2 linked regions of the Homo sapiens genome follow. The protein of the gene in region 1 interacts with the protein of each later gene in a biochemical or structural test. Each region holds a gene or a part of one and is shown on either strand. Other genes may lie near its edges. The genes, in order: DACH1 and SMAD4.

The links.
Region 2: the proteins of DACH1 (region 1) and SMAD4 form a complex in vitro, tested with the Homo sapiens proteins (one study listed by BioGRID).

The regions. Positions count from the first base shown.
Region 1 is NC_000013.11:71,856,989-71,860,821, reverse strand, and holds part of DACH1 (dachshund homolog 1), read left to right. Parts: intron 1-3,833. UniProt on the Homo sapiens protein: Transcription factor that is involved in regulation of organogenesis. Seems to be a regulator of SIX1, SIX6 and probably SIX5.
Region 2 is NC_000018.10:51,064,594-51,068,426, forward strand, and holds part of SMAD4 (mothers against decapentaplegic homolog 4), read left to right. Parts: intron 1-829; coding exon 830-1,013; coding exon of another isoform or gene 1,014-1,020; exon of another isoform or gene 1,021-1,152; intron 1,153-2,425; coding exon 2,426-2,594; intron 2,595-3,833. UniProt on the Homo sapiens protein: In muscle physiology, plays a central role in the balance between atrophy and hypertrophy. When recruited by MSTN, promotes atrophy response via phosphorylated SMAD2/4.

The sequences.
Region 1 (3,833 bases):
CTATCAATTAGTATTATTTTATCTTTCCAAGTTATTTTACTAAATTGCTTCATACAATTGCTTTTGTCAGTCAAGTAAAATAGTCATTTCGATTGCATTGTATGAGCAACATAGAAAACAACTACTGCAAAATATAATGGGAAATTAAACTCTCACAGGTTGTAAACTGTCTCCCTTTGAATCCTTGTCTGAAGAAATTAATTTGAACTATGCCTTCTAAATAGGTACAGGTGAGTCATCTAGATTTCATTAAACATTTTTATTTTAAGGTTTTTGTTACTTGGTTCTTTTAAAAAGTTAAACTTTGTTTGAATTTATCTTTCAAGTATTTCCTTTTCAGCTTGTTCACCAAAAAAAAAAAAAAAGTCACATTAAGTTATATATCTTTAGAATAACAGGAAATGTAAAAATGGATATTATTGGCTTGGGTATTTAAAAATGTAATTAAGATAAAGTTTTATCATTTTATGTTTGAATTGTTATAAAAATAGAATGACCTTAGCATATGTCAGCATGTGCCATTTTCTTACTGAGGTAATGCTTTGTGATTGGCCAGTTTAAGAGATGTATATCTGCATGCATGTGTGTGTGTGTGTGTGTACATACGTATGTCTAAATACTACATATTATATGTAGTATATTAATATATTTATATAGTATATGTAGTTTGAATATTCTAGCTAAGACTACACTTATATTTTCAGGCTTTGGGACTGCATTAAGGAGACCCTTCTCTATTATGTTTGTTATGTTCAATAATTAAATTTTTAAAGAAGAAAACTATGAATTAAGAGCCCACCTAATGGAGCTCAGATAAGTGTAACAGCAAAGGCTCTGATCTGCACAGATATGTACATCTCAGGCACAGCAGAGGCTCTGTGCAAACCTACATTTTGCTCAAATTTCTTGTTTCCTTCTTCTCAATCTGCCAAAAATATTTCTAGTAAAAAGTAATTTTTGCTACTGTGGCTGTCTTGTAACTAACTTTTATTTGCTGATATTCGCTTTTTAGCAAATGTCACATACAGGAATGACTTCATTAGGATAGTATAGTTAGTTTACCAAATTATTGCTTTGGAAAACAAGAATACCAAGGATAAGATATTTATATTTGGTCCACTAATTAGTTATTATTAGATTACTGGTGGATTACTTTATTTGTTACACCTATTTATTTTAAGGAGGTTTCTGAGAATCTGTTAAGAGTGTGTCCATTGTTGCTAGTTTTAGGCAGCTAATGATTAGCTTTATATATAAATGTACAAATGACAATGAAAAGAATTTTCAATCCACTATAAATTAGTTATTAGACAATCAATAAAAAGGTCATTGTTTTTCAAATTAATGATACAATTAAAATTAATTTAATGAATAGCAGATAAATGTCCAATTAAAAAATATATGTCACATCACATATAATGACCCAAATCACCACTTGATCCAAAGTCAAGGACCTTGAACCAAATGCATTTAAAATGTATTGGTTTATTCGGACATAGATTTCCTTTATAAGAGAAAAGCATTCGAATTCACCCATTTAAAAAAAATCATCTTTCATTCTTTCTAAATTGGACATTAAATTTGCCAATGACTGCATTGTGTTAAAGGTGTGGTCCTTTTGCTTTCTGATCCAAATTGGCTTGGAATTGATCCAGGATTTCAAGCTGGGATTCTTCTGCACATTTAAATGTATGTGACTTGATTGGAAGTTGTCAAAGACAACTCATTAAACTGGAAATCTCACTATGTCATTGTTTAATTGGTCTTTTTTTGTTGTTGTTATAAGTATATTGAAGTGTTGTAAACTACAAGCACAGCAACACACTGAATAGCCAGTTACTTTTTAAAAAAGTTTTAGAGAGTAGTGATTGATACTGAGAGAGAGACACACAGAGAGAGAGATACAGAGAGAGAGAGAGAGAGAGAGAGGCAGAGAGAGGCAGAGAGAGAGAGTGCTTAACTGAAGTATCTATAATAATGTACCGTACAGGTTGAATACAATACCTGGAATACATTACATTTTTCTAGCAGGAAGTAAAAGTGAAATAAGCCAGGCACAGAAAGACAAATACTGCATGATATCACTTACATGTGGAATCTAAAAAAGTTGAACTCATAGATGCAGAGAGTAGAATGGTGGTTACCAGGGACTGGAGAGCTGTTGGTCTAAGGTTACAAAATTTCAGTTAGATAGGAAGAAAATGTTGTACAACGTGGTGATTATATTTTCTATGATTTGAAAAATAGAAATAAATATACTTTGATTTGACTATAAGTAGATCTTTAAGAATCCTGAAGTGGATTTTGAAGATAGCCTATATTTTTGACAAAAAAAATATGGATATACTTTTAAAGCATGATTTTCATGAAGCAAATACTGCAATAGGCCACATAGTACATTGGTTGATGTTGATTGGTAACATTGAATAATTGAGAAATGTTTTTGTTTCCTTAGCGTATATGAATGGAGTGGTAAACATGAAGTATTAAAAAGTCACAGTGTTAAATGATCTTTGAATTTGTATGGTATCAAGTGTTTGTAAATAATTAGATTGCCTTTCCAGTTACAACAGGAAAAAAATAACCTTATTTTTCTTCAAGGGCAAACAAAATATATCTTAAGAAAGAAAGTGTACTACTTGAAAGGGAGATATTTTATGGAAACATACAGAAGCATTTGCAGTAAATATTTATCAATTCCATTTAAGGGATACTGGTCATTTCTTCAGTAAAGGCAATGAAAATAAATCTCTAGAATATGTTAACTAAGAAATAGTGTATTACATTCACTTATCAGGCAGATGGAGTATTTTGTTAAAATCTTAAACTGTATCCTGATATTTTATTAGTAGCAACAGTAAATGGGCTGTTTTATTCATAGTCTTATATTTTAAAGACATATTGTTTATGTATGAACAAAGTAAATCACTTAAGGTGTAACAAATCTTTGAACCCATCATAGTTCTGCTAAAATATACTGATGCATTCAACAGTATTACTTTCTATTTTATGTTTCAAATTTAGGATTTTTATTTAATTTGATTATTCAAAATGATATTATCTTCTTGAGTTAGGCACTTACACTTAAATAGTGCCTTTTGATTTTAAAAGAATAACCTGGAACACTTTTATTTTTCATAATACCTGTCACACATTTTATATGAGGATGAATGTTCTTGTGTGTGCAACAAGTGTAAAATTTTTATCAGTAGTTTAGAGAACTCTGTGGTGGATATTTTTTATATGTATTAGCATTAGCTCATTTGTACTCTATGCTTTAAATAATTGTCGTACATTTGGTAGAAAAGCCTTTACATACATGTATATGTGTTGTGTAGGAATACATTCACACACACACACGCAAACATAACATATACACCTGTAGGATGTAGGGCCACAGGACAAATAACTTAGGAAAATACAATTGGCTTTAATTTTACCTTTTTGTAGCACATAAAAACATGAAACAATACATCAATAAACAGGTCCTATTTTACTGAAATACAACAGAAAAAAAGAATTAATTTTAGAGTTAAAGAAGTAGTTTATACTTAAATATTTTAGATATAATTATGCAAGGCTATATGGTTATTAGGACAGTGATTAAAAACAGCTTAATTTTTCTAAACCTTTTTTATGATAATGTACTTTAAATTCTCTGTTTAAAAATATATGTATAAGAATTATTTTATTTGTATAAAATAGATATTAAACGATTGGGTATTAGAATCTGTACATTATTAAATGACACTACATGTGCTTGATGCCCTTGCTCTCTTTCTTTTATTGGTTTATTTCATTGCTTCTTGCACTTAGAGCCAGCATATCCTTTA
Region 2 (3,833 bases), on another chromosome or scaffold:
GTTTACAAATAAAAATTAGAAATACTTGATCAGTTGTCTTTGTAAACCAGAGTAGCACCTCTTTTTTCCCAGTGATTTAAAATTATATATTATTGTTCAAATGAGTACACTAAATACATCTCCAAAGTTAAAATTGTGGTAGTTAACATGACCTGACTTCACTAAAAATACCTTTTGCTATGGCATAGGTGGGACAAATGACCTTCTACCCAAGAGACAGTTGAGAATCTGTGTGTACAACAACTGTGTGATTAGAGTATAATTAACCTTAACTCAGGGATGGGATAGCTGACTTGCTTATGCACTTTCTCTCAATTAGGGAATCTATAAAAATATGTCATGAGTCGATGTTATTCAAGGACAGTTCCCTGGAATACATCTTAGGGTCAGTGTGTTTTTAAAAAATAAAAGTTGAGACTACATAGAGAATATGTGTAGTCAAATGAAATACCATGGTAAAATAATTTATTTTAGATTCTGATTATTTCTGTTCTTTAAATTCTCAGTTGACCTGGTCCTTTGAGGTAAGAACCAAATTCCAGATTTTAAAAAATGACTTTTAGAACTTGAGGATAAGTGGTAATTGGAAATTAAAAAAAAAAATTAGTGTTTTAAGAACAGTGCTAAGTACTGAGCTAGAAAATAGAAGACATGGAAATTCCTACCTTTTAATGCATTATGTTATTTTAATCCAGTTGTTTTGGGTGCATTACATTTCCATCTCCCCTCCCTTTACCCTTTCTTTTAGGAAAAACTGTGTTGTGGAGTGCAAGTGAAAGCCTTATATCTTTCTCATGGGAGGATGTTCTTTCCCATTTATTTCCTATAGCTCCTGAGTATTGGTGTTCCATTGCTTACTTTGAAATGGATGTTCAGGTAGGAGAGACATTTAAGGTTCCTTCAAGCTGCCCTATTGTTACTGTTGATGGATACGTGGACCCTTCTGGAGGAGATCGCTTTTGTTTGGGTCAACTCTCCAATGTCCACAGGACAGAAGCCATTGAGAGAGCAAGGTATTGATTGTATAGTCAGATAGTTACTTTAAAAAATTGAGCATAGTACATTGTCTTTTATTCAAGGTTATGTTTTCCCATGTACATTATATGTGTTCTTAAATATAAATAAAGGAATAAAGGTCATGTTGAAAACTCAGAATTTGTAAGCACTCCATCTTAATTGTCGGTGTTTTTGTTGTTTAACATATAATGATAAAAGATAGCCTTTTTTATGTTAGTAGGTTTCTATGTTTCGAATAGTAAGTATACCTTTTGAAATTCAGTTTGAAAATTTTATTTTCTGTGATCATACATTTCTACAAATTACTGAAAGGAAGTAATATTAAATGAGAACATGTTTCTGAAAGTTTTACTTATAATGTTAAAAAAATTGGTAATAAAAGGGAAATGGTTAAGTAAATTATGATAAATTTTTCCTTTTTTATACAGTCATTAAAATGTTTAAAAGTTTATATAATGAGGCTGGGTGCGGTGGCTCACACCTATAATCCCAGCACTTTGGGAGGCGGAGTCAGGCAGATCACTTGAGGTCAGGAGTTCGAGACCAGCCTGGCCAACATGGTGAAACCCTGTCTCTACCAAAAATTAGCCATATGTGGTGGTGTCCACCTGTAATCCCAGCTACTCAGGAGGCTGAGACAGGAGAATTGCTTGAACCCAGGAGGTGGAGGTTGCAGTGAGCTGAGATCGTGCCACTGCACCCCAGCCTGGGTGACAGAGTGAGACTCCATTTCAAAAAAAAAAAAAAAAAAAGTTTATATAATGAAATGGAAATGCTTACAGTGAAATATTACAGGAACATTCCATTTTAGCTACTGTATGATCTCGGCTTTTAAGGATGTGTGTGCTAAAGAACATAATCTTGGCTCTATCACTTGCTGTCATGTGACTTTGGCAAATTACCTAACCTCTAAGCCATTCTGCCTAATAGAATTTTCTGTGATGAAGAAAATGATTTATATTTGCACTGTCCAGTTCGGTAGCCACTAGCCACATGTAACTATTGAGCACTTAAATTATAGCTCACTTGATTGACTAATCGGATTTCTAATTAGTTTTAATTTAATTTAAATAGTCACATGTGGCTAGTGGCTATCAATTTGGACAGTATGCCTTAGTTTCTTTATCTAAAAAAATTAGAATAATAGTACTTGTTGAGTTGTAAGGGTTTAATGAGAATTCATACTACATGCTCCTGACACATAGTAAGTGTTGTAAATATGTGCATCATTATTAGATATGAACAGGAAAAGAAAAAAGGAAATATACAAAAATGTTAATAGCTATCTTTTGGTTTTATGTGATCTTTATTTTTAATTTTTCAATATTAAGCATGCTATACAATCTGAACTAAAATTTAATTTAAAATACTTATCAAGATAAAATGTAATTTCTTTTTTCTTCCTAAGGTTGCACATAGGCAAAGGTGTGCAGTTGGAATGTAAAGGTGAAGGTGATGTTTGGGTCAGGTGCCTTAGTGACCACGCGGTCTTTGTACAGAGTTACTACTTAGACAGAGAAGCTGGGCGTGCACCTGGAGATGCTGTTCATAAGATCTACCCAAGTGCATATATAAAGGTTAGTTACAATTTTATTTGAATATTTTAGACTTAAAGCTCTATTTGTTGTCAAAAGAATTGAAATCTGGGTGGAAGGAATGGAAAAATGTTTTATATATTAAATAATAAGAAATTGTGTTTAAGTATAAAAAACACATTTTCTGAGGGCATTTATTGACATTATCAGTAATCTAGTTTTATCGTTGCCAATTTGTTACATTTTGTTTTTTATTTTATTTATTTATTTATTTATTTATTTTTGAGACAGAGTCTTGCTCTCGTCGCCCAGGCTGGAATGCAGTGGCGTGATCTCGGCTCACTGCAACCTGCGCCTCCTGGGTTCAAGCAATTCTCGTGCCTCAGCATCCCAAGTAGCTGGGATTACAGGCACATGTTACTGTGCCTGGCAATTTTTTGTATTTTTAGTAGAGACGGGGTTTCACCATGTTGGCCAGGCTGGTCTCGAACTCCTGACCTAAAGTGATCCGCCCAACTTGGCCTCCCAAAGTGCTGGGATTACAGGTGTGAACCACTGTGCCAGGCCTGTTACATGTTTTAGAGTAATACAAAGGCTCTTGAAAATACTGAGTGAAGCCTCCAAAGTTGTATTCCTGTAACTTGAAATTTGTAAGAATCAGACTCTGGACTTTCATCTTAGCCAATCTTCAGGATTTTATGGAAGAGAATTCTAAAATTAATAGCTTTTCAAATTAAGAACCTGATAAGCCTGAAATATTTTTCACTAGTTATATATTCAACCTGTTTGAATTTTACTTTATAATATAACCTGTTTTTGAAAGAGAAAGGCAGTTGTAATTAGATAGCCTAAATATATTTTTAATTGTGTGTCATCCTCAACATTTTCATTGTCAGTGATTGTAAATTGGTAGAATTAACTGTGTCTCATAACTTATTACCAGGAAGTTGCTTAGGATAAAAATAATGTAGCCCCATAGCATCCATAAAAATGGAATTGCCTGATTACCTCACAACAGCAAACCCAGTTTCTCATTTCCAGTTATAGTTCAGTTAAAGAATGTTGGAATTTTTTTATATGACACTTTTAAACATGCCAAGTATAGCGAAAATAATAAACCACATGTACCTATCATCCAGCTGCAACAATTATCAGCACTTTACCAATCTTTAATGTGTTTCTCCCCCAACTTTTTTTTCCTGGAGTCGTTGAAAGCCAATTCCAAACAGCATAGTCACTCATAAAATATTTCTGTGTGAGTAACTCATAAAATACTCCTGT